4 linked regions of the Homo sapiens genome follow. The protein of the gene in region 1 interacts with the protein of each later gene in a pairwise test. Each region holds a gene or a part of one and is shown in the gene's direction. Other genes may lie near its edges. The genes, in order: ZDHHC15, VAPB, PEX16 and C14orf180.

The links.
Region 2: the proteins of ZDHHC15 (region 1) and VAPB interact in binary tests that used the Homo sapiens proteins (3 or more experiments, as listed by UniProt).
Region 3: the proteins of ZDHHC15 (region 1) and PEX16 interact in binary tests that used the Homo sapiens proteins (3 or more experiments, as listed by UniProt).
Region 4: the proteins of ZDHHC15 (region 1) and C14orf180 interact in binary tests that used the Homo sapiens proteins (3 or more experiments, as listed by UniProt).

Annotation. Positions count from the first base shown.
Region 1 is NC_000023.11:75,415,021-75,422,043, reverse strand, and holds part of ZDHHC15 (palmitoyltransferase ZDHHC15), read left to right. Parts: intron 1-53; coding exon 54-180; intron 181-4,853; coding exon 4,854-4,957; intron 4,958-7,023. UniProt on the Homo sapiens protein: Palmitoyltransferase that catalyzes the addition of palmitate onto various protein substrates.
Region 2 is NC_000020.11:58,392,214-58,399,236, forward strand, and holds part of VAPB (vesicle-associated membrane protein-associated protein B/C), read left to right. Parts: intron 1-7,023. UniProt on the Homo sapiens protein: Endoplasmic reticulum (ER)-anchored protein that mediates the formation of contact sites between the ER and endosomes via interaction with FFAT motif-containing proteins such as STARD3 or WDR44.
Region 3 is NC_000011.10:45,914,855-45,922,771, reverse strand, and holds the start of PEX16 (peroxisomal biogenesis factor 16), read left to right. Parts: upstream 1-4,894; 5' UTR 4,895-4,960; coding exon 4,961-5,072; intron 5,073-5,278; coding exon 5,279-5,314; intron 5,315-5,630; exon of another isoform or gene 5,631-5,773; coding exon of another isoform or gene 5,774-5,798; intron 5,799-6,468; coding exon 6,469-6,545; intron 6,546-6,935; coding exon 6,936-7,069; intron 7,070-7,203; coding exon 7,204-7,304; intron 7,305-7,917. UniProt on the Homo sapiens protein: Required for peroxisome membrane biogenesis. May play a role in early stages of peroxisome assembly. Can recruit other peroxisomal proteins, such as PEX3 and PMP34, to de novo peroxisomes derived from the endoplasmic reticulum (ER).
Region 4 is NC_000014.9:104,582,750-104,589,772, forward strand, and holds part of C14orf180 (nutritionally-regulated adipose and cardiac enriched protein homolog), read left to right. Parts: intron 1-3,665; 5' UTR 3,666-3,681; coding exon 3,682-3,792; intron 3,793-4,999; coding exon 5,000-5,129; intron 5,130-5,524; coding exon 5,525-5,560; intron 5,561-5,828; coding exon 5,829-6,034; coding exon of another isoform or gene 6,035-6,129; 3' UTR 6,130-7,023.

The DNA of each region.
Region 1 (7,023 bases):
TGTTTCTTTATTGCTTTCTTCCTCTTTTCTTCAACTCTCCTGCCCTGCCTTAGAGGCCTTCTGCACTCCAGTGTTTACAAGTGGCCCAGAGAAAAATGGGTTCAACCTTGGCTTCATCAAGAATATCCAGCAGGTGTTTGGAGATAAGAAGAAGTTCTGGTTAATACCTATTGGTTCCAGGTGAGTAAATATTACCACTGGAAGAAGTTAGTACTGGACCCTGCCTTGAACCAGCAAATTCAATTTTGATTGTAGTATGCAGCAGGTATCAGTCCAGTGTGAAACTCTATTCCCCAAGTTCTTCATTTCTAGGTTAATAAAGGCAAATAAAGAGGTGAGGGTCTGATAAAATAGATATTCTCATGCTTTCTTTGTGGCAGTGTGCAGTGGCACTACCAATCTTTTATAACTGAATTTGGTAATATCTATCAAAAAATTTAAGAATCTACTTGCCCAACATCCCAGTAATTCCATTTCTGGGAATTGAATCTACCCTAAAGACAGAGACAAACTATGCACAAAAATGTTCATCACAGCATTATTTATAGCCAATAATTAGGAAACAACCTAAACAGCCAACAATATGGGAATATATATATATAATATATATTATATATATATTATATATATATTATATATATATAATATATATATATACACACATACTGGATGGAATATTATACAATCAAAAGTAATGGTTATAAAGACTATGTCACAAAAAGGGAAAGTGCTTACTATATTTTAAGTGAAAAAAGAAAAATCCAATACACTGTGATTAAAAACATAAGTATATATAGAAGAAAAACAGCAGAAGAGAAATATACCAAAAAATGGTAAAAATGGTACTATATTTTAAGTGAAAAACGAAAAATTCAATACACTGTGATTAAAAACATAAATATATATAGAAGAGAAGCAGCAGAAGAGAAATACACCAAAAAATGTTAAAAATGGTAAGGGCAATAGTCTTAGAAATTATTTATATTTTCTCCATTTTATATATTTTGTGGTTAATACTAATATTATTTTATGAATAAAAATATGAAAAGCAAGAACAAAGATTAATTTGAGGTTGTAGGTAATTCTTTTTTTATTATACTTTAAGTTCTGGGGTACATGTGCAGAACATGCAGGTTTGTTACATAGGTATGCACGTGCCATGATGGTTTGCTGCATATCAACCCATCATCTACATTAGGTATTTCTCCTAATGCTATCCCTCCCCTAGCTCCCCACCCCAGGACAGTCCCTGGTGTGTGATGTTCCCCTCCCTATGTCCATGTGTTCTCATTGATCAACTCCCACTTATGAGTGAGAACATGCGGTGTTTGGTTTTCTGTTCTTGTATTAGTTTGCTGAGAATGATGGTTTCTAGCTTCATCCATGTCCCTGTAAAGGACATGAACTCATTTTTTTGATGGTTGCATAGTATTCCATGGTGTATATGTGCCACATTTTCTTTATCCAGTCTATCATTGATGGGCATTTGGGTTGGTTCCAAGTCTTTGCTATTGTGAACAGTGCTGTAATAAACATACGTGTGCATGTGTCTTTATAGTAGAATGATTTATAATCCGATGGGTATATACCCAGTAATGGGATGGCTGGGTCAAATGGTATTTCTAGTTCTAGATCCTCGAGGAATTGCCACACAGTCTTCCACAGTGGTTGAACTAATTTACACTCCCACCAACAGTATAAAAGCGTTCCCATTTCTCCACATCCTCACCAGCATCTGTTGTTTCCTGACTTTTTAATGATTGCCATTCTAACTGGCATGAGATGGTGTCTCATTGTGGTTTTGATTTGCATTTCTCTAATGACCGGTGATAATGGGCTTTTTTTAATATGTTTGTTGGCCACATAAATGTCTTATTTTGGGAAGTGTCTGTTCATATCCTTTGCCCACTTTTTGATGGGGTTGTTTGGTTTTTTCTTTTTTTTATTATACTTTAAGCTTTAAGGTACATGGGCACAACGTGCAGGTTTGTTACATATGTATACATGTGCCATGTTGGTGTGCTGCACCCATTAACTCATCATTTAGCATTAGGTATATCTCCTAATGCTATCCCTCCCCCCTCCCCCCACCCCACAACAGACCCCAGTGTGTGATGTTCCCCTTCCTGTGTCCATGTGTTCTCATTGTTCAATTCCCGCCTATAAGTGAGAACATGCGGTATTTGGTTTTTTGTCCTTGTGATAGTTTGCCGAGAATGATGGTTTCCAGCTTCATCCATGTCCCTACAAAGGACATGAACTCATCATTTTTTATGACTGCATAGTATTCCATGGTGTATATGTGTCACATTTTCTTAATCCAGTCTATCATTGTTGTACATTTGGCTTGGTTCCAAGTCTTTGCTATTGTGAATAGTGCCGCAGTAAACATACGTGTGCATGTGTCTTTATAGCAGCATGTTTTATAATCCCTTGGGTACATACCCAGTAATGGGATGGCTGGGTCAAATGGTATTTCTAGTTCTAGATCCCTGAGGAATTGCCACACTGACTTCCACAATGGTTGAACTAGTTTACAGTCCCACCAACAGTATAAAAGTGTTCCTATTTCTCCACATCCTCTCCAGCATCTGTTGTTTCCTGACTTTTTCATGATCGCCATTCTAACTGGTGTGAGATGGTACTCATTGTGGTTTTGATTTGCATTTCTCTGATGGCCAGTGATGATGACCATTTTTTCATGTGTCTTTTGGCTGTATAAATGTCTTCTTTTGAGAAGTGTCTGTTCATATCCTTCGCCCACTTTTTGATGGGGTTGTTTGTTTTTTTCTTGTAAATTTGTTTGAGTTCATTGTAGATTCTGGATATTAGCCCTTTGTCAGATGAGTAGATTGCAAAAATTCTCTCCCATTCTGTAGATTGTCTGTTCACTCTGATGGTAGTTTCTTTTGATGGGGTTGTTTGTTTTTCTCTTGTAAATATGTTTAAGTTATTTGTAGATTCTGGATATTAGCCCTTTGTCAGATGGATAGATTGCAAAAATTTTCTCCCATTCTATAGGTTGCCTCTTCACTCTAATGAGAGTTTCTTTTGCTGTGTAGAAACTCTTTAGTATAATCAAATCCCATTTGCCAATTTTGGCTTTTGTTGCCATTGCTTTTGATGTTTTGTTCATGAAGTCTTTGCCCATGTCTATGTCCTGAATGGTATTGCCTAGGTTTTCTTCTAAGGTTTTTATGGTTTTATGTCTTACATTTAAATCTTTAATCCATCTTGAGTTAATTTTTGTATAACGTGTAAGGAAGGTATCCAGTTTCAGCTTTCTGCATATGGCTAGCCAGTTTTCCCAACACCATTTGTTAAATAGGGAATCCTTTCCCCATTGCTTGTTTTTGTCAAAGGTCAGATGGTTGTAGATTTGTGACGTTATTTCTGAGGCCTCTGTTCTGTTCCATTGGCCTATATATCTGTCTTCATATCAGTACCATGCTATTTTTGTTACTGTAGCCTTGTAGTATAGTTTAATTTGCGGTTGTAGGTCATTCTTAGAACTGCAACAATTATGCAGGGAAAGTAGTGGATGAGAAATAAACAGTCAAGCTTGTGTTCTCTGAATGACTTTGTGAACCAGATTGAACCACCATCAACTAAACTAGTTCTAGAGCAGAGCTTGCTTATAGCCTTCTTGCAGCCACTTTTCAGTCCCCTCCTTAGACAGGAATACACTCATGTTCACTTAGTTGAGGTAACTTTGTTGGGGGTAGGGTGGTAATTATGGAAAAATTTCTCCTTGATTGATTGCCTTGATACTTCCTGTGTAGCAGTTAGTATTTTAAAGACTCATGTATTTCAGAGATGTGGTGTATCCAACTAACCTGTCTATAAATCACAAGGCAAAACTATGTCAGTGGGTAATATTGATTAATAACTGTTACCAGATATTACCTATACCCTATTCACATACTCACATACACAAATATCCACACATCATCACCACATCAAAGGGAGATGTAAAATCAGTCTTCTCTGGAATAAAGAACAAAACCAAAAATCAAAGCCCATTCATTTATAATCAGTACACTTACATTCTCTTTAGAGTGCTATCAATAAAATCTGTCAAATTTCAATTTACCACATACATGAACAGGAGAAAAGGCATAGGTAACATCAAAAGTCATTCAGACTCAAATGTGGAATGCATTCAGATACCTAAACTGAAATGTTCAAACTGTAGCCTCTTCTAGCCAGGGCCAGCTCAGTTCCCTCCAATGCATCCCATCTGTTAGTGGCCAGAAATTACCCAAGGAGTTGACCCTAGCTTACCACAGGTAGCCACAAAGCGAGACCCCACATGTGGATAATTGCCCTGAAAATCTGCAGTCTAGAGATGGCTCACTCTGGCTCTTTCCCCTAGTTCCTAATAACCTTTCTGCCATGCACACCAAATAAATAACAGTGCATTTGCGCATTGTCTTTCACCAATTCACACCAGCTTATCTCCACTGTATTTAGTGTTTCAGAGACTGGTCATCTTTCTTGAAAACTTAGAATCAAAGCAGTGAGATAATTGGATATAAATTGGTATCATCATCATTAAGTGATATGTATGAAGCTTGCTGTGTGTGCATATTGCCATACTGGGCATTTTGGGAAGCAAACTATAGAGTTCTTACAAACAAGAAGTTAACACTGATGCAGACACACAAATAAGATATGGAAATCGAGAGCAATATAGCAACTAAATAATGCTATTGTAAGAGCCCATTCCACCATGGCTTTAGACAATGAGACTAAATATGGCTAAGAACCCCCCTCTTGTTTTTAAGAGGATTATAACCTTCACAAAAGTCTATGTCAGCTGCAATAGGTCACTGCCTTTCTTTTCCCATCAGCCCTGGTGATGGACACTCCTTCCCTATGAGGTCTATGAATGAGTCACAGAACCCACTGCTAGCAAATGAAGAAACCTGGGAAGACAACGAGGATGACAACCAAGGTAAGTGGGGTCAAAGACTATGAAGTCCACATTAATACAACCAATGTAATGTGGTGAGTAAATAGTGTCCAGAAAGATTTTATAAGCATGTCAACCTCATAAGTGTCCTCTGGATGGTGGAGAGCAAGTATGGCCATATTTGTTTAGTAACCATGGGTAGTTTAGATAAGATTAGATTGCAGCTTGGGAGGCTCCTTACCAGCTTTGTGATTCTGTGATTTATATTACCAGTCAGATATACATCTGGATATATATGGATTTCTAAACAATCCTGCTGGGTAGTCACTTGTAGTACTTTGCTTGAATGTGGAGTTCAATTTAATCAATGGGCAACATTGCACCTTTCTCCATCCTCTTTCATTCACATTGGTTAAATTTTCTTTAAAATCCTATACTCACTCTCTTTTTAGAATGGTTTCAATACACTAAAAACTAAAAGATAGTAATGGGGCAAGCCTACACATGCATGTAGTCTACTTTTCTAAAAGGAAGAGGGGCAAAGGAAAATAAGCTTCAACTTTCTCCTACCAGGTCACTGGGTCATCCTAAGGCATTTTGTAAAGAGCTAAAAGTTGAGTTCTCATATAATGTATCCCCATTGCCAGCCCTATTCCTTGTCTCCACCTGTTGCTGTGCCTACTTTTGTGTCTCCAACATTTACTTATGTTGCTAATACCAACCATTAGAAAGTAGTTTTGGCTACTGTTCCCAATAATGCAGTAGCTGGCAGCAATTTTGAGTAGGAACTTGTAGTAGCTATCACAAACTGTACCTGGGGTGAAGGAGGCTAAATGAAGACATGGAAAAGTATTGAAGTGGGAGCAGCGGTAGAGAACAAGCCTTTCTAATTTTTTACCCAGTTGGATTATCCAGGCCCTGATTACCAGGAAATCTAGTTTTAGAGAAAAGCATGTTACTAGGCCCAAGGAATACAAAACAGCCACAAATCCATAGATAAAAAAGAAAACAGTTATTGTCCATCCCAAAGAACTTACAAGGGCAACTCCCTTACTTCCTCCTGCTGACTATTGGAAAATTGACTATATTTTGACCTGTCTTCCTTCAGTCTTCAGTCTTTCTGAACTGACTTTTACTTACAGCAGTCACAAGTTATAACAACTCTTATTTTGGTATTAAACCCAAACTCTAATAGAAGCCAAATAATTATCAGGTCTTTACCTGGTTTGAAATAATTCACAATGAAAAAAGCTATTCATAGCTGAGCTTTGTGTTGGCAAGTGGAATACTTTAAATGTAGATATAGCATCACATCATAAAGAGGTTATATTTTGAAGCAGTCTCCAATTCCAGACCTTTTCAAAAATATTCAATCATTAAAAATTAGTATGTTATTTTATAGTTTACAAAGTGCTTTCCTATATTTTTTCTTCATATCCTTTGACCCTCACAACTTTCAGGTTAGATAGGCAGTGTTATTAATAGCATCCCTATTTTATAATTAAGAAACTAAAATTGAGAGATGTTAATCTCACATGTCAAGGTATCTTGATTCCAAATCCTAGTTTTTTTCCACTACAATGCTAGGTCTCTCCTTTGGACAAGTACATATGAGACACAGTGCTGTGATTGCATGCCATTTAGTGATCTGAAGCATTCAACTGCTTCTTACATAATCATAAAATCATAAACTGTAAGGTGCCTTTAGCTTTAGCAAGACCACTATGCCATCTTAGATAGCTGAGGGGTTTTTTTTAAGTTCATTGAAGGAGACTCCACAATCCTCCTTTGTAACCCATTCTAGTATCTAATGCAAGTTCTCATGCTGTGTTATTTGTTAGGTTGATTCTATGTTAACTTCAGTTGCTCCCATTTTCTGTGCATAACTGTCATAGACAAACAGTTCTTACATTTTTAACAACTTAGATTCCTAGGAAAGGTGCTGTAAGTTGAAATTACATGTGTGTATTTAAGTTAATTTCTTTTAGGAATCAAGTGGAATTTTTATTCCTAGCCCAAAATATAACATTTCATTTAGTATAAATGTGCTTGTATGGCCGGGCGCTGTAGCTCACGCTTGTAATCCCAGCACTTTGGGAGGCTGAGGC
Region 2 (7,023 bases), on another chromosome or scaffold:
AAGGAATGACATGGCTGTTAGTGGCTTTGTAAGTGCATAGTACTATACAGAGATTAGACAACCACTTAACTACTTAAGTGGTTTCATCACTTCTGTACCTGAAAGGTGTGGCAGAGAATAGCGATCATTCTGGCCCTGGATTGGCCAAAGTAATTATGCCAAAGTCACTGGATATTTTTGCTAGGGAAGTGGTCCAAGAGAAGTGGTACCAAATTGTTGAAGGCCTCTGGCTCATAACTTTAGAAGAGACATCTGTGTGTGTTCTTAAATGACGTCATGAGGTGTGTTGTTTGTTTGTTTTAAACTGAATGCTAAGACAGTACAATTAATAGAGACTGAATACCCTGACTTAGAGATAATTCATTTCAGGATGAGAAATGGCACATTTAACTGGTTTCTTCCAGGTTACTCAGGGTGACGACTCTGATTTCTGGTCGTTCACCTAGATGAACCTCTGAGCTAACTTTACTTGAGAAGGTAATAACTAAAATGCCCATTCAAAGGAAAAATTATCTTTTAAATGCAGCCTAAGTTGATCGTATGGGATTGTATATTGTCAGACTCTTTAATCTTGGGAATTTTGTGTGGTATGTTAAATTTAAGGATGTTACAGAAGAAAAAGAATGCAAATTTATATGACTTTATGCAGTTTTATAGGAAGTACTATGCTGCATCATAAATATCAAAAGGAGAAAGCCTGGTGGCTTCCTGAAAGAAGCATGACACAGGAGGATTTGCCTAGACTTAAGGTTGACTTTCATGAGATATTTTTAGTAAGTGAACATTAAGCTCTTTCAGACTAGGGGTATCTTTCTGAGAGAGTAAATGTTTTTGTTTTTTGGCAGGGTCTTGCTCTGTCACCCAGGCTGGAGGGCAGTGGTGCCATCATAGCTCACTGTAGCCTCAAACTCCTGGGCTCAAGAGATCCTCCTGCTTTAGGTTCCCTGGTAGCTAGGACTACAGATGCCACCATTCCTGGCTAATTTTTAAATTTTTTTGTAAAGATAGAGTCTTGCCATGTTGCCCAGGCTGGTCTTGAATTCCTGGCCTCAAGCAGTCCTCCCGCCTCAGCCTTCCAAAGTGCTGGGATTACAGGCATGAGCCACTGCATGCAGCCTAAGTGTGTGTTTTCTTTTATATTTCTTTTTGTCTTTTTCACTAAGTCATAGGAGTTTTTTAAAATTGTCACTCTTTCTGTTGATCTCAGTTCTTCCAAGTCCTAATCGTTTCCTTGCCATCTCCTCACTCTGAGATCCCACTTGTTGTCCAGCTCAAAGAGAGCTTTCCGAATGAGTCACTTTCAAGGCATTATATAGCACTCTTCTTTCATTCCCTTCTCCCTCCCCTTCCATGAGAGTCCATCTGTGGTAAATAGTATGTCATATATTTTTTGGTCGTTCAGGACTCTAGATCATTCCTTACATCCTAGCCCATTCCCCCAGCAATGATACTGTCACATGGAAATGGTCTGTTGAACATCCATCCTCACTAGGTTAAGGTTTGTTTTGTTTTGTTTTGTTTTGTTTTGTTTTTTTTGAGATGGAGTTTGGCTCTTGTTGCTCAGGCTGGAGTGCAATGGCGCGATCTTGGCTCACCGCAACCTCCGCCTCCCGGGTTCAAGCACTTCTCCTGCCTCAGCCTCCCGAGTAGCTGGGATTACAGGCATGCGCCACCATGCCCGGCTAATTTTGTACTTTCAATAGAGACAGGGTTTCTCCCTGTTGGTCAGGCTGGTCTCGAACTCCCGACCTCAGGTGATCCACCCACCTCGGCCTCCCAAAGTGCTGGGATGATAGGTGTGCGCCACTGCACCCAGCCGGTTAAGGTTTAAACATAACTGTGGATGCATTTACTTTTGCTTTATTGCTTGACTGAACCAATGACCTTCAAGAAGTCTTAGATAGTCCTGCCATTAGTAGGGATCTCAGATGGGAGGGCACCAATGAATCAGTGTAGTTGAGTACCACTTTTGGGAGAAAATAGAAACTTGGACACTCTAAATGATAGTTTAAGGACGTTGTTTGTTTTGTTTTGTTTTTTGTATGGGAAAAGTTGGCTTAGACTCTTTAGTTCAGCCCTTCAAGTTGATGTGTAATTTAAGATTGTTTAGGAAGTTAAAAAATCTAAAGCCCTGTGGATATAGTTCATTCAGTGCAGTAATTATCTTTCAGATGCCAAGTACAGCATTAATTCTTTAGCTTTAGCATGGCACTGATTTTCTTAACACTTCATGATCACGTGGAGCAGACTGTGCTTTACAGCACAACAGAGCGTCAGCCATGTGCTGAAGATTCTTCGTGGTAGTGGTTTAGATCCACCCTGAATAGATTATCTTCATTTATTTAATTATTAAGTAGCTTGCTTATCAAAAGCGGCATTAAACTTACTAAACTTGAGTCAAACGTAAATCTTCATAGATAGTACCATTTACTTCTGAAATCTTGTTCCTGGGAGAAAAATGTGGACTGGAAGTTAACTTTCTTTTATCCACCTATTCACTCCTTTTTCTTCACAGTTAACTCCTTAGGGGAAAAAATGTATAGTTCTTGACCATGTGCTTATGTTTGTAAAGCAATGATGTTTCCTTAACGTGAGTGGTTGTGACATAGATCACTGTTATCTTCATAATTACCTGGGAGCTTTTCATCCAAGTGTGGATTTACTAAAATAATTAGTCTGAATTGATGCTTATTAAAGAGCTGAACTCTTAAACGTTAACACTATCTTGTATTTATTAAAATTGTATGCATGTTTCCTTCAAATGCTGAAGGCAGAATACTGAGAACTTTGACCCTGTGTTATTATCGCTAAGTAGTTGAAAATTAGGGGAGGAGTCAAGGGAGTATATTATATTGGTTATCACTCAAATACTACCCCTAGGCATGATTTTTAGAACCGAAACTTGAATTTTTACATAAAGAATTATCTCCAAAAGTGTCTTTTTTTTTTTTTTTTTTGAGATGGAGTCTTGCTCTGTTGCCAGGCTGGAGTGCAATGGCACTATCTCGGCTCACTGCAACCTCCGCCTCCTGGGTTCAAACGATTCTCCTGCCTCAGCCTCCCGAGTAGCTGGGACTACAGGCACATGCCACCATGCCTAGCTAATTTTTGTATTTTTAATAGAGACGGGGTTTCACCATGTTGGCCAGATGGTCTCGATCTCTTGACCTCGTGATCCGCCCACCTCGGCCTCCCAAAGTGCTGGGATTACAGACATGAGCCTCTGCGCCAGGCCAAGAGTGTCTTATATATCCCCACTTTTTTGAAAAATTTGCTGTCTAAAGGATGATCATGATTTGGGACGAATGAGCACAGCTTTCAACTAGATGACAAGAAAGATGAATACAAAGAGTGCTGAGTTCCATTAGTCAAGACAAGGTTGCCATAGAATGTCTTTAATAAAATAAAACAAAAGCCTTTTGCGTTATTTTGCACCGAGGATTGTGTTAAAAACAAAGTTGCATTATGGTTTCCAGATTGGCATCCTTGTTTTTTTCTATCATTTTAGGCCCCTTTCAGGCTGTTATCAGCATAGCATATCCAGGATTGCTTTGGCCTTGCTCAGTGGGTATGTGCGTTCTTTGAAGTTCTTACCTGACAGATGTGGGCAGCTGGCTTTACACAAGGAAGAGTTGTTTAAAGAGCTTTGGTATGGAAACAAAGTTACTAAACTTGACAGTCACTTGAGGATTATTTAAAAAACAAACAAAATAACTGAATGTGGTAAAATACTATCTCTAGAATATTTTTCAAACTGTTAAATGCATCCTTTTAACAGAAGCTGTTGATGTCTACAAACACTGTCTTTGTAGACAAAGACAAACCCCCCTTGCATGGGGGTTTGGGGGTTGGGAAGCAGTTGAGAAAATGGCATAGTCCCGTGAGAAAACCTTGGAATACTTTCTTTTAATAACATTTTTTTATTGCATAGAACTGTAAAGCTACAGAAATGCTTTCTTGGAGTTTTCCTTCATCCTTTCAGAAGGGCTAATATTGACCTTTGGTTAGCATGTTAGTATTTTCACCTGTGTCAAGTGATGTCTTCACGCTTTTGGGGGGTGTGTGTGTGCATGCCCACCTCGTGTTGTGTAGGGCACATTGGCCGATACCTATAATGTGTTTCAATTACTACATTGTTGGCATTTCAGTAGGCTCCTTCAGCCTTTGCCCATCTGGGAAGTGGAGACTAGGGCAATAAATGTTTTAGGGGTAGATTGAGACTGCAGTGTTTTTCATCTTTTAGCTTGTACTTTAAGACAATGGGATGTACCCCTAGACCATTTACCTAGATTTAAATTACTTCCTTGTGATGTGGTTTAGAGCTCTAAGTTCCTTGAGTTGTCTTGAAAGGCTGAAGGGTGCTCAGAGAATGGAGGGGAATTGAAAATGGAACCTAAGGATCTGGGAGTGGTCATATGTGTGAGTGGTGAAATGTGCCCCCCAACACCCCGTTGGGTCGGGTCTGGAGTTAAAAGCAGTGGCTGACATACATTTTGCAATATAAGGGTAAAGAAAGGTAAAGAAGGAACAAACATTTCTAGAGGATAAATGCTTTAATTCCAGAAGATAGGCCACACAGTTTAGGAACTGTGGTAAGAGGTGCTTTGCCATATTTATGTTACTGTTTAATCTGTGTAACAATCGTATGAGATGACTTAGTCAGTGGCTAGGTAACTTTCTGCTGGATGAGGCTGCACTAGTAAATGGTGGCACAGGCAAAGCCTTGTACTTTCCCTCATACCAGTATCAGCTCATTAGAGTTAACTCATAAAGGGGTTTGTTCTTGAGAGAGGGAGGCAGAGAATTTAAAACCATTAATGAAGTATTAATAGCTGTCAGGACAATTTCTTAAGAACATCAATTCATTAAGAGTTATTCTCTGAATTTTTTAGGAGGGATTTCTTGCCCTACTTTTGAAAAAGTTCAGACAGATGACTCCAAAGAATGTTTGATTTCTCTTGTGAATATTCACTTTTATATCAGATTCTGATGGTTTCTTGATTCTATATATTTAGAAAGCATTCGGCCGGGCATGGTGGCTCATGCCTGTAATCCCAGCACGTTGGGAGGCTGAGGCAGGCAGATCAACTGAGGTCAGGAGTTCGAGACCAGCCTGACCAACATGGAGAAACCCCATCTCTACTAAAAATACAAAATTAGCCGGGCATGGTAGCGCATGCCTGTAATCCCAGCTACTTGGGAGGCTGAGGCAGGAGAATCGCTTGAACCTGGAAGACGGAGGTTGCGGTGAGCCGAGATCCCGCCATCGCACTCCAGCCTGGGCAACAAGAGCAAAACTCTGTCTCAAAAAAAAAAAAAAACAAAACACATTAACTTGTGGGTAATTTGTCCTTCTGCTATCCAGTCTTTGGAAGGCAGGGCAAAGCTTGTGTGTGGTAGAGATTTCATAGGCTTGCAGGTTTGTAGAGTGGGAATTCAAGAAGTTGTAAAGGGCACTTATTAAGATAGGAATGTCTAAAATAAATGATCTTTAGCAGTGCCACCTTAAACTTTGTAAGTGTTGCTACAAAACCTTTAGTTCTGCATGCTCCTGACCAGCCATTGCCTTGGACAGAGAAACAAATAAGGGTGAGTTAATAAACTAGAGACTTGTCTCAATTGTTCAAAGAGGTAAACTTAAGGTGATTAAAAAGTGCTGTTTTATTCTGTATGAGATACACTTTGGGAAGTCGTCATTTTCCAAGACGATGATACGCCAGGCATACGAATTGGATCAGAAAGGATTTAGAGACATGCATGGATATAATGATCTCTTACAGATGTTCCTCACCTTACAGCGGAGTTACATCCTCAGAAACCCATTGTCAGTTGAAAATATTATAAGTTGAAAACATATTAGATACAGCTTAACCTACCCAACATCATAGCCTTGTCTACCTTAAACATACTCAGAACCCTTAAGTTAGCCTCCAGTTGCACAAAGTCATCTAGCACAAAGCCTATTGTATGATAAAGTATTGAATATCTCATGTACTGCATATTACTAGCCTGGGAAGAGATCAAAATTCAAAATATGTCAAAATTATGATGGCTTCACACCATTGTAAAATTGAAAAATCGCAAGTCAAACCAATCGGGGATTGTCTGTACATAAGAGATGATTGTCCAAATTAGAGCTGTTTTGGGTTTCTGCCCTTTGCAGATCCTTTGAGGTTTTCTTTATAGACAGATGACTCCTTCTGGGGGAATTGAGCGTGACTCTGATTGAGATTTGGTTCAGTTACCACATACTGAAAGCTTCCTGTGGGCCAGGCACTAGGTTGCACTGGGGACCTGGGAGGAAGGCCTAGCCCTTAAAGTTTCCAGCCTCTAGGTATTGGGAGACGAGGGAAAATGGGGACAAGATATTTATGGCCTGTCCTTATTGAGAGCTTAGAAAAAGCTGTGTTAATTCTGCTTTGGGTGTTCGATCTCACAGGGAAGATGGCATTTGAGATATGTGACTTGGCGAGCTTACACTGTGCGCTTGCCATTTTTCTAAGCGTTCATTTATTTAATTCTTAATGCAAGCCTAGGAAGTGGGTACAGTTATGATCCTGAAGTTATTAACCCAAGTTATGAACCTGACTGAGGGTTGGAGCTGGGATTTGAATCAAGATCTGTCTGATTGCAAAGGCTATGGCTTTTTTTTTTTTTGTCGTCATGCTGGCTGTGTTTCTTCCCTTAAAAGATAAGTGGGAGTGTGCCCTTGGCTTTCTTATTTATTATGTTAGGAAGATGAGAGGAGGAGTGAGACTAGAGAAAGAGGCTTGAAAGAGAAATGGGATAGAAAAATAAAGGAAAAGGCTGGGCACAGTGGCTCACACCTGTAATCCCAGCACTTTGGGAGTCTGAGGTGGGTGGATCACCTGAGGTCAGGAGTTCGAGACCAGCGTGACCAACATAGTGAAACCCCATCTCTACTAAAAATACAAAAGTTAGCCGGGCGTGGTGGTGCATGCCTGTAATCCAGGTACTGGGGAGGCTGAGGCAGGAGAACCGCTTCAGCTGGGGAGGTGGAGG
Region 3 (7,917 bases), on another chromosome or scaffold:
CGACGGCCGGGTTGTGCGGCTCGCGCCGAGCCACCTCCCTCACCTGCTCCAGCGGCTCCCGGGCTGGGCCCTGCGCTCGCAGCCGCCGGCCAGGGTGCGGGAACCAGGGGAGAGGCGCGGGCCGGTCCCGCCCCCGACCTGGGCTCAGGTTTCACCTCAGCGGGGCTGAGCGCGAAGGGGCGGGGTGACCCCCCCGGGGTCCTGGCCCCGCCCCTTGGGCCGGCATCCGACGGTTCCCCAGCCCGCGAGGAGCCCCCGAAGCCCCCTTCTGGGCTGAGTTTCCCACCAGGACGAGGGGAGGGCTGGGGGAGCGGGAGCAGCCACCCGCGAAGGCCCGGGCCCCGCTACCTGCCCTGACCCCCTGCCCTGCCCCCGCTCTGGGGCCGCGTCTCCTCCCCTCACTCCCCAAGGGGAGGGGCCAGTGTCCCCGGGCCCGGGATCAAAGACACTGCGGGAGCTCGACACGAGGGAGGAGGAGGGGGCCGGAATGCAGGCCGCAGGGTCTGGGACACCTGCTCTGGGGACAGGGGCGGAGCCGGCCGACACCTGCGCCAGAGCCGCGGAGCACCTGAAGCCTTCGCCTCACTCCCCCACTCTCAGTCCAGGTGGCCCGGCCGGGCCCTGCCGGCGCCGCCAGGACAAAGCGCCCTTGTGAAGGCCGCCTCCCGCCCGGGAGCTGGCGAGGGGCCCCAGACGCGGGCGGCCTAGGCTGCCTGGGCAGGGCCGGGGATCCCCACTCTTGTCCAGATCGTCGTGATTGTGCCCGGGCGCACCGGCCTGGAGCTCGTCTTTCCTCCCTCTCCCCCGCGCACCCCATAGCAGGCCAGGGAATGGGTGGGGGGCGCTCTGGACCCTAAACCAGCACAGCGTGCCAGGCCCTGTGCTAAGGATTTAATCACCCTCGATTAATCCCATGATGCGGGCTAATTCTCCCCCGGAGAGTTTAAGTGACCTGTTAGACAAGAACACCCTCCGGCCCCTCCCGTCTCAAGCGGCCCCACTCCGTTCCCCAGGCTCTGCGCTGCAGAAGCAGCTTTCTTGCTCCTCCTCCGGAAGGGTCTCCCGCCCCAGGACTTGCCCTTGACGTTCCTTCTGGCAGCGGAGCCTCCCAGGGCTGGCTAGCACTCATGGAAAGTTGAAGTTGTTTGCTTGTTTATTGCAGGTCTCCCTCCCAGAATGTAAGCTGCTCACCGGACTGGAACCTTGTCTGTCCAGTCCCCAGTGCCCAACCAGGGCCTGCACATACCAAGTGCTCAATACCTGTTGAAAGTGGATTGGAATGAGAATCTCCCCTCCCATGACCTGGAAAGGGGGCTCAGGCTGTGTCATTTGCCCAACTTCTGGCTGCAAAAAGTGAGGCAAACTCAAAAGAAGCTGTGGAAAGCAGCCCAACCTGAGACCCCCTTTCTCTGGGAGATGGGGAAGGTCAGGCTTTGGGTCTCTGGAGGGCAGGGATAATGGTTGCTATGGAGACTGATGGTGGCTCCTTGTGCACCCAGAAATTGAGAAGGGCCATGCACTGGCCACTCAGGCGTCTGGAGCTTGAGCCTCCAGCCTCCCTGATCTTCATCTGTAGCCTAAAGCTGGGGTGGGGAAATGTGATTCCCTCTCCAGGACCCTCAACAGAGACGGTTTGTGGGGGTTAAACATGTGAGACCAGGCCAGAACAGTGGCTTATGCCTGTAATCCCAGCACTTTGGAAGGCCAAGGCAGGTGGATTGCTTGAGCCCAGGAATTTGAGACTAGCCTGCTCAATGCGGCCAAACTGTATGACTGCAAAAAATACAAAAATTGCTGGGCGTGGTGGCATGTGCCTAGTACTTGGGAGGCTGAGGTAGGAGGACTACCTGAACCCAGGAGGTCAAGCCTGCTGTGAGTTGTAATCACACCACTGCACTCCAGCCTGGGTGACAGAGTGAGACCTTGTCTCTAAAAACAAACAAACACCATATGGGATCCATAGTTGGGTGCTGGCCCAGGATGAGTCTTCAATAAAGGGGCTGGGGGAGTCAGTGCAGGAAGCTGGGTCTGCAGATCTCACTGTAGTCACTCACAATGTTGGCCCTTCTTCTGGCTCAACCTCACCACTCAGGGAAACTGAAGTGCTGAGATACCTGCTAGGCCCCCAAGGGGTTGTTCTGGGGGCGTGGAGGGAGAAAGAGGGACACGTATGGGCATATAAACAGGTGCTGTTCCTCTTGGCCTAAGACCCATTTTGACCCAGCTCTGCCCAGGACTTTGCTGTGTGACCCTATTAGACGAGTGAGGCTCCATCTCTGGGCCTCTGGTACTCTCGTAGGTAAATGTTGGACTGGTCTACCTCTCTTCCCCTGTGACTTGGGGCAAACTGAAGGAGAGAGGATACGGCTCAATCTGCCCAAAGGTCCTTCCAGCCCAACAAAGACGGCCAAGCCCAGGCAGGGGGCCAGGGAGCAGGGGAGGGGCCTCCTGCACACACCGCAACTCTTTGTCTCTGGGCCCTAATCCGGCCTGGGATCTAGAGAGGAAATTCAGGCAGCCCTGCTGCTGCCAAGCTGGCTAGACCCATGCTCCCCTTCCCAGTTCTGCAGGGAGGGAGAAGAAACTGGTTCCAGCCCAAGCCCCTTCCTATTCTGTCCTGGGGAGTCTGCCCCTCTCCCCTCCACACCTTGCTCTCAGAATCAGGACCTCCAGCCCAAGGAGTGCTGAAGAACCTCAAATTCTCTCTCTGTACCCTCTCCACAGCTGCAGAGGGAGGGCTGGAGGAGTGGCCAAACTGGAGGTTTGAGGAACAAGTTCACTAAGGTGTTGGTGCACAGCAGGGCCCTGCAGGGCTCAGTGGCTCACACCTATAATCCCAGCACTTTAGGAGGCTGAGGTAAGCGGATCACCTGAGGTCAGAAGTTCGAGACCAGCCTGGCCAACATGGCGAAACCTCGTCTCTACTAAAAATACAAAAATTAGTCAGGCGTGGTGGCGGGCGCCTGTAGGCCCAGCTAATCGGGAGGCTGAGGCAGGAGAATTGCTTGAACCTGGGAGGCAAAGTTTGCAGTGAGCTGAGATTGCACCATTGCACTCCAGCCTGGGCGACAGTGAGACTCCGTCTCAAAAACAAACAAACAAACAAACAAAAAACAAGGTGGGGCAGAGGAAGGGAGAAGGAGCCTCACCTTGAGGGCCCTGAGCCTAGGTCCTAATCCCAGTTGCTAACTGGCCTTATGACCAAGGAGCCTCAACATGTCACAGCTTTTGTGGGCTGTGGGCAGTAGGAGAGAGGGCACTGCCACTGGAGACCTGCGCTGTGGCCTCTTTGGCCAGTGCCTTGCTGTGCCATGTGGGACAAATCCTTTCCCCTCCTTATTGGGCCCTAATTTCCCATCTGTGAACAGTTCATAGCAACTTGGGGCTGCTGGGAGGAGGGCAAGCAAGCCTGGAACCCAGAGCGTGGCCAGAAATGATGTCGACGATGCCCATGACCACCTCCTCTGTTCTCCAAGACCTTTGCCTCTCCTCAGGCCCCTGGTCACCTTTCCCTGGGTCTTCGTTCTTTGATGTGAGAAGAGGGCAGCTTTAATCCCCCACCTGATAGAGAAGAAAACTAAGCTGTGGAGTAGGGTGGAGTGAGGGAGTGGAAGGAAGGTTGTGGTTTCCTGGTGAGGTGTGATGCTTAGACCTGGTCTCTAAAAATAAAATTAAAGTTAAAAAAAATGAATTAAAAAAAACCGCCTAGTCTCTGAGGTCAGAAAAGACCAACACTCAAATTTTGGCTGGGCGTTCTTAAAAGGATGCTTTCTTCATCTGGAGATATCTGGTGGAGAGGATTAGGTAAAATAATGTATTACTATTCTCAGGGTACCATAAATCCGCTGGCCCGCTCCCTCAGGCCACTGGCCCACGGCTCCACCCATGTCACGCCCCTTTCCCCGCAGCCAATCAGCGCTACCTCCCCAGAGCGCCCGTTCCCTCCACCACTCGCCGCAGATCTCCCGGTGCCACCCGTTCCAGGGAGGCTGCTTGGTTTGGGAAGATACTCCCCAGGGGTCTCCCCTTCCCTTGGGGGCGCAGCTGAGGACTGCGAGGTGCGTCCGAGGGCCAGAAAGCTGAGATCGATTCTGAGTTCAAGGATCAAGTCTGCCCTCAAACCATTTTACAGATCGGGAAATCCGAGACCCAGAGAAGGGATACTCCCGCCCAAGGGCCACCGAGCCGAGAGAAGCCCGGGCCAGGGCTTTCTTCGCGTATGTGGGAATGCAGGCGCGAGCCCTTTGGGGGGCACAGTCCATACGGGAGCTGAGGCCGAAGCCGGAGCACTAACTGTGCTGTCTAGGGGATCGAGACGGCACTAGAGGGCTGGACTCCTTACTGCCTCAGTTTCCCCAGCACTACCTTTGTTGAGGAAACGGAGATGGGGATACTGGCCGAACGCGCGCCTGCTGAGACACAGTGCAACTGTATTTAGACGCCCCGCACCTCCCCAAATCTGATCGAGGCTCCTTTTTTCAAGCACCCGCTATCTCTCAGCCCTTTAAAATCCGGCCCTGCCGTTCGAGTCTCTCGGCGTTCCATTGGAAAGACTCGGGGCTCCAGCTCCCTTCTCTAGAATGAACTGCTCTGACTGCCGCCCGGCTTTACCGGAGCTTTAACTGCGCAGGCGCAAGGGCAGCCAACCCGGTAAACGGAAGAGCTGGGTGCTGACGGCGCTGGGCGGGTCAGGGGCGGAGAGCGTGCTAACCAATGACTTGAGGGAGTAGGGGGCCGGGTTTGGGCCCTCAGTTGCTAAGGGCTACCCGAGTGGGAAGCGGTTCAAGAGATGGGGTGAAGGGTGGTTCACCGGTTCTTCAAGTCCTCAGCCTTCTGGCCCGCGGAAGTTAAGCAACCAAGAGGCGGGCCTAAGACCGGAAGCAGGAAGGAGGGCGCAGGAAGCAGGGCGCCGCAGCCTGTCGTACGGTCCTTCTGTGGGTCTGTCGGTGCCGAGGGCAGGATGGAGAAGCTGCGGCTCCTGGGCCTCCGCTACCAGGAGTACGTGACTCGTCACCCGGCCGCCACGGCCCAGCTGGAGACAGCAGTGCGGGGCTTCAGTTACCTGCTGGCAGGTGCCACCCTGACCTTTGATCAGTTCCTTCTGGGCCCTGACCTATGACCCCAGTGGCCCCCTTCCCTGCGGAGTCAGGGTAGTGATCGCTGTGCTTGAGAAGACCCGTCCAGGTTCCCAAAGGGCGTAGGGAGGGGATTTCCGGGACCCGAAGACGAAATGTGAGGCAGATGCTCACTCACACCTCCTTCTGTACCCTCTCCCCAGGTCGATTCGCCGATTCGCACGAGCTGTCAGAGCTGGGTGAGCCGGGCTCTGGGGGTGGGGGATGGGGGATCGGCTGCCTGGCCCCTGGTGAGTTCCCCAGAGAGGGTGAGCACCCCAGCCCGAGGACCTGGGCTGCCCGTTAGACACCTTGTGCTATGACTGAATCGGCACAAGGTCTGTTGTTCATTGTCCTGGGCCCTCCATGTCCCTAAGTCAAGAGACACGTCTGGGGACCTTATCTGAGTATTCACTACTGGCCAGGCGCTGGACTAAGTGCCTTTCTTACCTTTACTTGTTAATCCTCCCTACAGTCATATTAAGTGGTACTTATTGTCATCACTGTCCATTTAAGGAAGAAGCTCAGTGAGGTTAGAGAACAGTCACTGATGGTCCCAGAACCAAGATTCAAGTCTAGATCTCCCAGATTCCAGGATTCCCAGATTGTAACTACCTCAAGAGTGTTTGCCCAGTGACTGCTGTCACAGTCCTGAAAGAATGCACTGGGTTTTGAAAAGCAGAGGTGAGGCCAGGTGCAGTGGCTCACACTTGTAATCCCAGCACTTTGGGAGGCAGAGGCAGGTGGATCACGTGAGGTCAGGAGTTCGAGACCAGCCTGGCCAACATGGTGAAACCCCATCTCTACTAAAAATACAAAAATTAGCTGGGCATGGTAGCAGGTGCCTGTAGTCCCAGCTACTTGAGAGGCTGAGGCAGGAGAATTGCTTGAACCTGGGAGGCAGAGGTTGCAGTGAGCCGAGATTGTGCCATTGCACTCCAGCCTGGGCAACAAGAGTGAAACTCCGACTCAGAAAAAAGAAAAGTGGAGGTGGAATAGACCCTCAGGAACAGGCTGCCAAGAGAGAAAGGGCCAGGAGGTGGGACCGTGTATCTGTGGCAGTTCAGAGAGCGATGGGCAGTTGTGGGCAGCTGGATGACCAGTGCCATCCAGCAGGGCAGTAACTGGCTTGTCACTGAGATTGACCCATCCTTTCTTGGTCCAGCCACCCTTGTGAGATCATGTTGGGGAGAGGGGAGTGCTGAGGAAGTGGGTGGAGAAGAAGGTTGGTTTCCACATAGTCTGTGGGTGTCTGAGCAGAGCATGTGACAGGTGATCCCTGCAGCTCTGGGGAGAAGGTGAGAGGGATGGAGGCTGCAGAGCCAGCCTCTCAAGGCCACTCTCTACCCCTCAGTGTACTCTGCCTCTAACCTGCTTGTGCTGCTCAATGACGGGATCCTACGGAAGGAGCTTCGGAAAAAGTTGCCTGTGGTGAGAATTCTGCCAAGAACAGGGTGGGAAGCATGGGGACTCAGGAATGAAATAGTAGCAGCTAGCCCATGCGTGCAGCACATGTCTCATGGAGTATGAGACAGGCCTATGTCCATCTGAGCCTCAAACCATCTCATTAGGTGACCTGTAAAGTGTGAGTATTCCCATCTTAGATGAAGAGACTGTCTCAGGTGAAGAGAGGTAGAGTCAGCTGTTTCAGGTCCCCCAGCCTGTTAATGGTGGAGTTGGTGTTTGAACTCACACCTGCACAGTTAGGCTTGGAAAGGGGAAGGTCCACATCTCTTGTCAGAGAAGCTCCCTCCTAGGAGAAGGGCCTGGGACTCCCTGTAGTCCCAGGCCCCCTGACTTCTTGGCCTGGGGTTCTTGCAGTCGCTGTCCCAGCAGAAGCTGCTGACATGGCTGAGCGTGCTGGAGTGCGTGGAGGTGTTCATGGAGATGGGAGCTGCCAAGGTGTGGGGTGAAGTGGGCCGCTGGCTTGTCATCGCCCTCGTCCAGCTGGCCAAGTAGGTTGGGATTGTGGAGAGGGTCCTGGGTGGGGGTGACGCAGGCTAGCTACACAGATGGTGCTCAGCAGAGCATCCCTGGCCTCCCGCCGGCTAGCCACCTCCCCACAACCCTGACATACTCCCCGACCCAGGGCTGTACTGCGGATGCTCCTGCTGCTCTGGTTCAAGGCTGGCCTCCAGACTTCACCCCCTATCGTTCCACTGGACAGAGAGACCCAGGCACAGCCCCCGGGTGAGCTACTTCCCCAAGCCCTGGAGCGGAATGGGCCATGGGACTAACTTGAGGATTTAGATCCAACCAGCATGAATACAGTAGTATCTGTTTATGGAGCACGCCTGTCCCTATCAACTATGTGTTCTCATTGCCATGTATTCGACAGAGAAGACAATGATGCGGCTAGGGACAAAATCAGAACACGAACCCAGTACTTGTCATGGCCAGAGTCATTCATTTTTGTAGCCTGCAGGAAGAGGGAACAGATGGGATGCCGCCAACCTCGACTCTGAGCCTGGTTCTGTGTCCAGAACCATAGCCTCTAGAGGCAGGAGGCAGGGCACGCACCACATCTGTCCCTTCAGGGCTTTGGGCCCATCCCGTCAGCTTCTGGGCCTCACTCTCTGGACATTGAGTTGGGGCCGTTCATTGCCTCTCATCATGATTGTTTTGAAGGCAAAGGATTGAGAGGAGACGGCCCCTCTGGTGCTGTGGTCTCCATAGATGTGGTCAGGCTGGGCCTTCCCTGCCTTGCCTGTCCATGGGTTCCGGGAGGCTGGCTCTGGCCACAGCTATGCTGAGCTTTCCCCAGGCTAGGGAGGGCTGCAGAGTGCTTTCCTCTGTGGACGGG
Region 4 (7,023 bases), on another chromosome or scaffold:
AGTCCCCTCGGGTGGACGCGCCCTCCCCAGCAGCGGGCCTAGCGGGACACTTACAGGTCCAGGCTCTGAAGCTATTTTCCGCCCTTTATCTCCCATCTGTCACGAGGCCTCCAGTTACACACTGTCCCTGCCAGAGGCCCCAGGCCTCCCCGCCCCCACCTGCCGAGCATGCCAGAGCCACTCCTTCCCTGCTTCCACTGGGGAAAATGAGGCCCAGGGAGGTCACACCACTTACCCGAGGTCACAGAGCCAAAGAAGGACAGAGCCCAGGACTTGAGCCAGACCTCTCTTCCAGAAGGGGAAGCGTGAAGCCCAGTTAGGGAGGGGATGGCAGGGCTCAGGGAGGCTGTCTGGGAGCAGAGCATGGCCCACGTGAAGGTGCATCTCTGGAGAGGGGACCGCGGAGCTCAGGGAGGCTGCCTGGGAGCAGAGCGTGGCCCACGTGAAGGTGCATCTCTGGAGAGGGGACCTCAGGGCTCAGGGAGGCTGCCTGGGAGCAGAGCGTGGCCCAGGGGAAGGTGCATCTCTGGAGAGGGCCCCAGGGCTCCCGGAGGGGAGGTGTCATCCCATAGGATGTCCTGACTGTCCAGACACAGCCAGAGCCACCTGAGCTCTGTTCCTGGGCACATTCCCTCCCCGAGTGATGCCAACAGTGGCTGATGGCACAGAGCACAGGCTTGGTGCGGACTCGGGTCTGTGCACTGACTCCCACCCTCACGCGAGCCCGCAGAGGCTGCTGCTCTCCTCACCCCCATTTCACAGCTGAGCAGACCAACGCCCAGGCAGATTAGGAGACTTGCCTAAGGTCACACGTGGTCACACAAGGTGCTCTGGAGCCCACACCTGAAGAGGGGGAGGTGCTGTCCCGTAGGAAGTCCTGACTGTCCACATTCCGGCAGAACTCTGTGCCCCAGAAGGCGAAGTCGCGTCCTCCCCAAGTTATGCTGCTCAGCAACAGATGGTTAATGCCACAGCCAGGCACCCTCACAAACACACTGCCTACGCCTGCACATTCACATACACTCTACACAAACACACACACATTCACCCACACATACGCAGATACACTCACACACACACACGGGCACATGCATGGACACACACACACATGCATATTCACATGCACGCACAGAAATACAAGTACACATATGCACACATAGCCACACCTCCATGCACACATTCACACACACAGACACCCCACACGTGCACACTCATGCCCTCTGACACACGTGCCCACTCTCACACTTGCACACTCAGGGGAATACTCACACATGTGTGCACTCACACACGTGCACACACACACTGTTTTCCCACCATCCCTTGGACAGACCCCAGGCCAAGGAGGGGTGAATAGCGAGAGCTGCTGGCAGGAGCTGGGGGAGACTGCGTCCAGCCCTGCATCCCTGCGTGACTCCGTCGGCCCAAGCCTCTCCAGGCCTGTTTCCCCATGAGGAGTGAACCTGGCTGGGCCCCCTGGAATGCTGCTGCAGGGTCGCCTGGCAAGGGGCTGTGGCCCTGGGCACGCCAGCCAGCCCCAGGCCGTGCAGCCCCAGGAAATGACCCCGAATGCACAAGCCTCCTTCCGCCGGGCAGTGGGAGAGCCCGGGCTCTGGGTCCAAGAGGTCACTGGGGGGCTCTGCTCCACCCCCAACCCCACCCTGGGCTTTAGCAGAGTTTCTATCCCACCCAGGGTGGAAACTGAGTCAATGGCATCCAGAGAGCCCTTCCAGCCCCAGCCCTGCTACGGACAGGCAGTCAAGGTTGCCCTGCCAGGCAGCATCCCCAAAACACCAGGACAGGCCTGGCACTCTGTGGCTTCCCTAACCCTGGGGATCACGCAGAGCCCACATTCCAGGTGACCTGGCCCCAGGAGACGGGGCCCCAGCTCAGCTGGGCCTGCAAGCACAACCTCTCCCACAGCCACTCTCTGAGAGCAGGTCCTGAAGATAAGCCGCCCCTCCCCGCCACCCCCCTGGATGGCCGGCTCCTGCCACAACCCTATTTGCAATAAAAACCTGATCCGGCGATAGCAGAAAATTGCTCTCTTTTGAAATAATTGAACCCGTCCAGACAGTGTCCTCCCAGACATCATTAACAGGGCACTCTGCTTGTCTGCAGTATTTATGCCCACTTGGGGAGGTGGTCATGGCCACCCTGTTATCTCCTGTAGAGGACGGCACACGGCTGCTGGAGTCACTGCAGTATCCACCCAAACCACTCCTCCCACAGGCCTGCCCTGAACCTCTGAGGCACCCATCCCTTTGGGGGACCCTGGAGGAGTTATCCTTGAGGACCATGTAGGCCCCTCACTCTCACCCTCCCCCTTCTCAGCCCTTGGGGGCAGGGTCCTTGGAGGACCACGGGGAGCCAGGGAAGCATCTCAGGAAATGCAAACACCTGCCCTGTGAGGGGCAGGGGCGGCAGTACCCTCCAAGGACCCCAGGGCAGGGGAGAACCTGAAGGGCAGCAGGAGGTCCCCACACTGCCCCCTATCCAGCTGGGAGCAGGGCAGGGAGGACCTGGCCTGGCATCAGCTCCCAGGGAAGCCCCAGCCCCCTCTGGCCTCAGTTTCCCGACCTGAAGCAAGAGAGGCAGGCTCATCACCCCCAGAGCCCTTGAAAGGCAGACACCTGCACCTGCACAGATGCCTGGTAGGCACTGCACCCCTCTGTAGGGAGGAGTGCCCAAAAGTCAAGAACCCTGCCAAGGCTGTGAGAGAAAATTCACACTTGGGGGGCTCCACCGGTGAGCACGAATGAGGAGAGCACAGCCTCTGCCGCCAAAGACACGGGGGTGGAGGCGAGGAGGCGCCATTCACAGCCAGGAAGCAACCAGCGCAACAGAGGAGGGGACAGAGAGACAGAGATAGAGGTAGAGAGATAGAGAGAGAATCAGAGAGAGGAAGGGGGACAGAGACAGAAACAGGGAGATAGAGACAGAATTAGAGAGAGGCAGGGAGACAGAGATGGAGACAGAGAGAGAGACATAGAAAGATAGAGACAGAATCAGAGAGAGGCAGGGGGACAGAGAGATGGAGACAGAGAGATAGAGACACAGAATCGGCGGGGGCGCGGTGCAGAGAGAGACACAGAGAGAGAGTGTGAGCCGTGCTGAGGGGTGGGCCCCCAGGAGCCCAGGGGCGCCCCACCAGCACCAGCCCAAAAAGGTGGGCATGACCCTCTGGGAAGCCTTTCTGTGGACCCGGTCTCAGAGCCCTGACAATTCCCAGTCCCCAGCCCCAGGGCTTCCCGCTACCGAAAGGAGACAAAGCAAAGATGTTTCTTGCAGCCTTATCCATGACCTCCAAACATTGCAAATGACAATACTAAAATGCAACCCTCATGAATACCCAATCATCGAGGGTGACTTTCAGTGACGGGACCTCGGCCCAGTGGAATATTATGCAGCCATTAAAGATGATAATTATGAAGACCGTGGCAGCAAAGGAAATTGCTTGCGATGGCATTTCTGAACGAGCAGGGAACAGGATTTACCTGCACTGGGGACACCACAGAGGAAAAGTGGTGTCTGCTCAACAGCGTGGCCGGTCGCAAGCCCGGGAAGCCAGCCTGGCTTCCAGGAAAGAATTTTCTCCTCCTCTTATTTTCATTCCTCTGAGTGCCACTTGTGCAGTAAATAATAAATAACGTCTCTGCTTATCTTAGGACCATGTTCCAGTAAATGAGGACTGCAGCAGGAGCCGTGAGCCCTGACTCCCGGCCAGAGACACGACGTCAGACCAGAAAGAATGAGGAGGCCGCGTGGGGCCCGCGGGTGTGCAGGGCAGAGAGGGTAAGGCGGGCCGCTGGGACACAGCTTCTGCAAGCTGGCCTTCCACTGGGGGCTGGAGGGGGCAGGGAGCAACAGACGTGGAAAGGCCATCCTCCACCCCAGGAATCAGGGGGTGATAGGAGGAGGGCAGGGGGATCACTGAGGGCTGGGGGGAGCAGCGGGGGGCAATGGGTGCCTTGAAGGATTTGGTCTGGCAGAGGAGATTGGAGGCCCCCAGGTGGGGCACAGCTTGGCAGAGGAAGTGGGAGCCATGGAGGGCTGTGGAAGAGGCAGCTCAGGGAGGAGGGTGTTGGAGGAGGGAAGAGGGTGGAGAGAGGACAGGTCAAGACTGTCACCAAGGGTCAGTGTTAGGGTTAGGGGCCCAGACCTCAGACCCTGAGGCTCCATCCAGCCTCTGAGGCACTGCCAGGCTGGGGCATGCCACAGGCACAGCAGGAGCTGGGCCAGACTCAGCATGGGCAGGCCTCACGCCCTCGCGGGGCAGCCTCGCCAGATGCCGAGCAGCAGGCTGTGTACAGCGAGCAATGCCCCAGCCAGGAACAACCTCAGAGCTGGCCCGGCTCCCAGGGTGCCTCAGCCCCAGTTGTCACCATGTCACAGACAAGGATGCTGAGGTTCACAGCAGCCCGAAACTCCCACTCCATCTTCCAGACTCAGGCTGGGCCCATACACGTGAGCAGACCAGCAGAGAAAGGGCCCAGGTAGGCAAATGTGTAGGAGCTGCCCCCGCCTGCAGCCTGGGAGGCTCGGCCCCAGGGAAAAGGAGGCCGAGGCCACCAACCAGCCCTCCTCACGGCCCTGGCCCGGCCCCTGCCCCATAGAGCTTGCAAACTCTGGCCCCTTAGCCAGAGCCCCTCTGCCATTGCAGCCCCCTCCCCCTGTCCACATGTCCTGGGGACCCTGTCCAGCAGCCTGCATCCGAGACAGCGGGCAGACGAAGAGAGGTTCAGTGGGGACTTGCGTGAAGAGACGGGGTCAGGAGGGGCTCCTGTCTTGCCTGGGCCCCTGAGGCTGAGTCTGGCTGCCCTGCAGTCCCTGTCCAGGAGCTGCCCCTCACCCTACAGGAAGTGACAGGCCCAGCATAGCGCACCAGCCAGGACAGGGTACAGGTTCCAGGACGGTGCTGCTGGGCCCCACATGGCTCAGACCTGGGTACCAGCGGCCTCCCGCCGGGGACTCACCAGTCTGCTTCCCGCCCCCACACCAGGAGGACAACAGGAAGTGCCCCCCCTCCATCCTGAAACGGAGCCGGCCGGAGCACCACCGCCCAGAGGCCAAGCCCCAGAGGACCTCGAGGCGCGTGTGGTTCCGAGAACCCCCAGCGGTGACCGTCCACTGTAAGAGGGCACCCGCAGCAAGCAGCTGGGAGAGGGTGGAGTCAAGCAGAGGGAGGCGGGGACACCGGCCACACCCACACAGCTCTGGCAGGGCCCAGGACATGGGGGGGCCGTGGCCACCTGCCTTCAGTGCCACAACCCCTGTAAGACCTGGGCCCCTGGGGTCATCTGGACACACAGTCCCGGTCCATGAAACAGCAACTGGAGGAGAACATGAGGGCGGATTCTCAAATCATGACTGTCCCTTTGAGGAAGTGTCAGGACCGGCTGGGCCTGGGTCTCTCACTGATGAATAGTCTCAGGGTCCTTCGGGGGTGCAGGGTGAGACGAGAGGGCGGGGGCGCCCGATGGACTGAGGCAGGTGCCCCCAGCTGACTCTCCATTCTCTTTCGCAGACATTGCTGACAAGAACGCCACAGCCACTGTCAGGGGTGAGTTCTGAGCCCACATCCCTGTGCCCCACTGCCCCCTCCGTGGGTGCACCCACCCTCACTCCCTCCCCGAGGGAGGTGTCACAGGGCCAGGGCCTCTAAGGAGTCCCCAGTTGGGGAGCTCTTGTTGCAAGGAGACCCCAAGAGGCTAGGGAGGGGCCATGGGCATGGACAGGGTGGAATCTCCCCATCCCTTCCCCACCAGCCCCAGTCCTCCAGGGAAGGGTCGCGCTGGCTGGCGCTGACCCTGCCTGCCCTCTGGCCGCAGTGCCCGGCCGGCCCAGGCCACACGGCGGCTCCCTGCTCCTGCAGCTGTGTGTGTGCGTCCTGCTCGTGCTGGCCCTGGGCCTATACTGCGGCCGGGCCAAGCCCGTGGCAACGGCACTGGAGGACCTGCGGGCCCGGCTCCTCGGCCTTGTCCTGCACCTGCGGCACGTGGCCCTCACCTGCTGGCGCGGCCTCCTGCGGCTCTGACGGGCAGGACGGGCAGGACGGGCAGGGCTTCCAGGAGAGCTCAAGCACTCCGGGGGCTCCGAGACAGCCTGAGCCCTGGCCCTGCTGCTTGGTGAATCATGGGGGCCAAAAGGGGCTGCTGCCTGAGGGCTAACTAGGAAAAGGGGGACCCCGTGGCGTGAGATCGGACATGGGGGGCACAGCAGGCGGCCCCGCCACACTAGTCAGCACAGCCCTCCTGTCTCCTGTGTTGGGTCCATGTGAGATTTTATTAGAAAGAGGATTCGACTGCTAACAGTTGAGGCTCCCCAGGCTCACCCAAAGACCCCTCCCTCGTCCCAGCAGGAACTCCTGCTGCTGCTAGGGCCTGGCCCGGCCATCACCGTGTGCACCCTCTTGAGGAGGGGGACACACTGCCCGTGTTCAAGGGGCTGCTCGGAGGAGGCAAACCCAGCCTTTTGCGATTATGGCTTGTGGGGAATCCAGACCTCGAAACCCCACGGGGAGGGAAGGGTCTGGTTGTCAAGGTGGGTCCCTTTGATGTGAGGTGCCATCCTCTGAGCCCAGGTCTGACCCCCCTACCCAGCCCCGTGAGTCTGGAGAGGCCCCAGGGAAGGACCCCTCATCAGGGGCGGCTTCAGGTGTAGAAGCCGAGGGGACAGCAAGGGGCCCAGACACCCCCGACCTTCAGAACAGCCATCTGTGCCCAGCTCTGCAGGCCAGGCACACCCAGCTGAGCCCGGGGCCAGCCAGCACCACCCACCAGCTGGGGCCTGTGGGTCCCGGAGACCGTCTGTGGTTGTGGCTTTGTCGCCGGATTGCAGAGCTGAAGGGAGCCCTGTGGATGACAAACACCAGGGGCCTCTCCAGACCCTACGTGGGGGGAGGGCTGAACAAAGCAGGGAGGCCCACGGTTAGACACCAGGCAGAACTGCCCAGGAGAGACACAGGGACAATCAGACCAGCGTCCTCGAGGTTAGCCTGAGGCGGGTGGGCACGGCCGACCATCC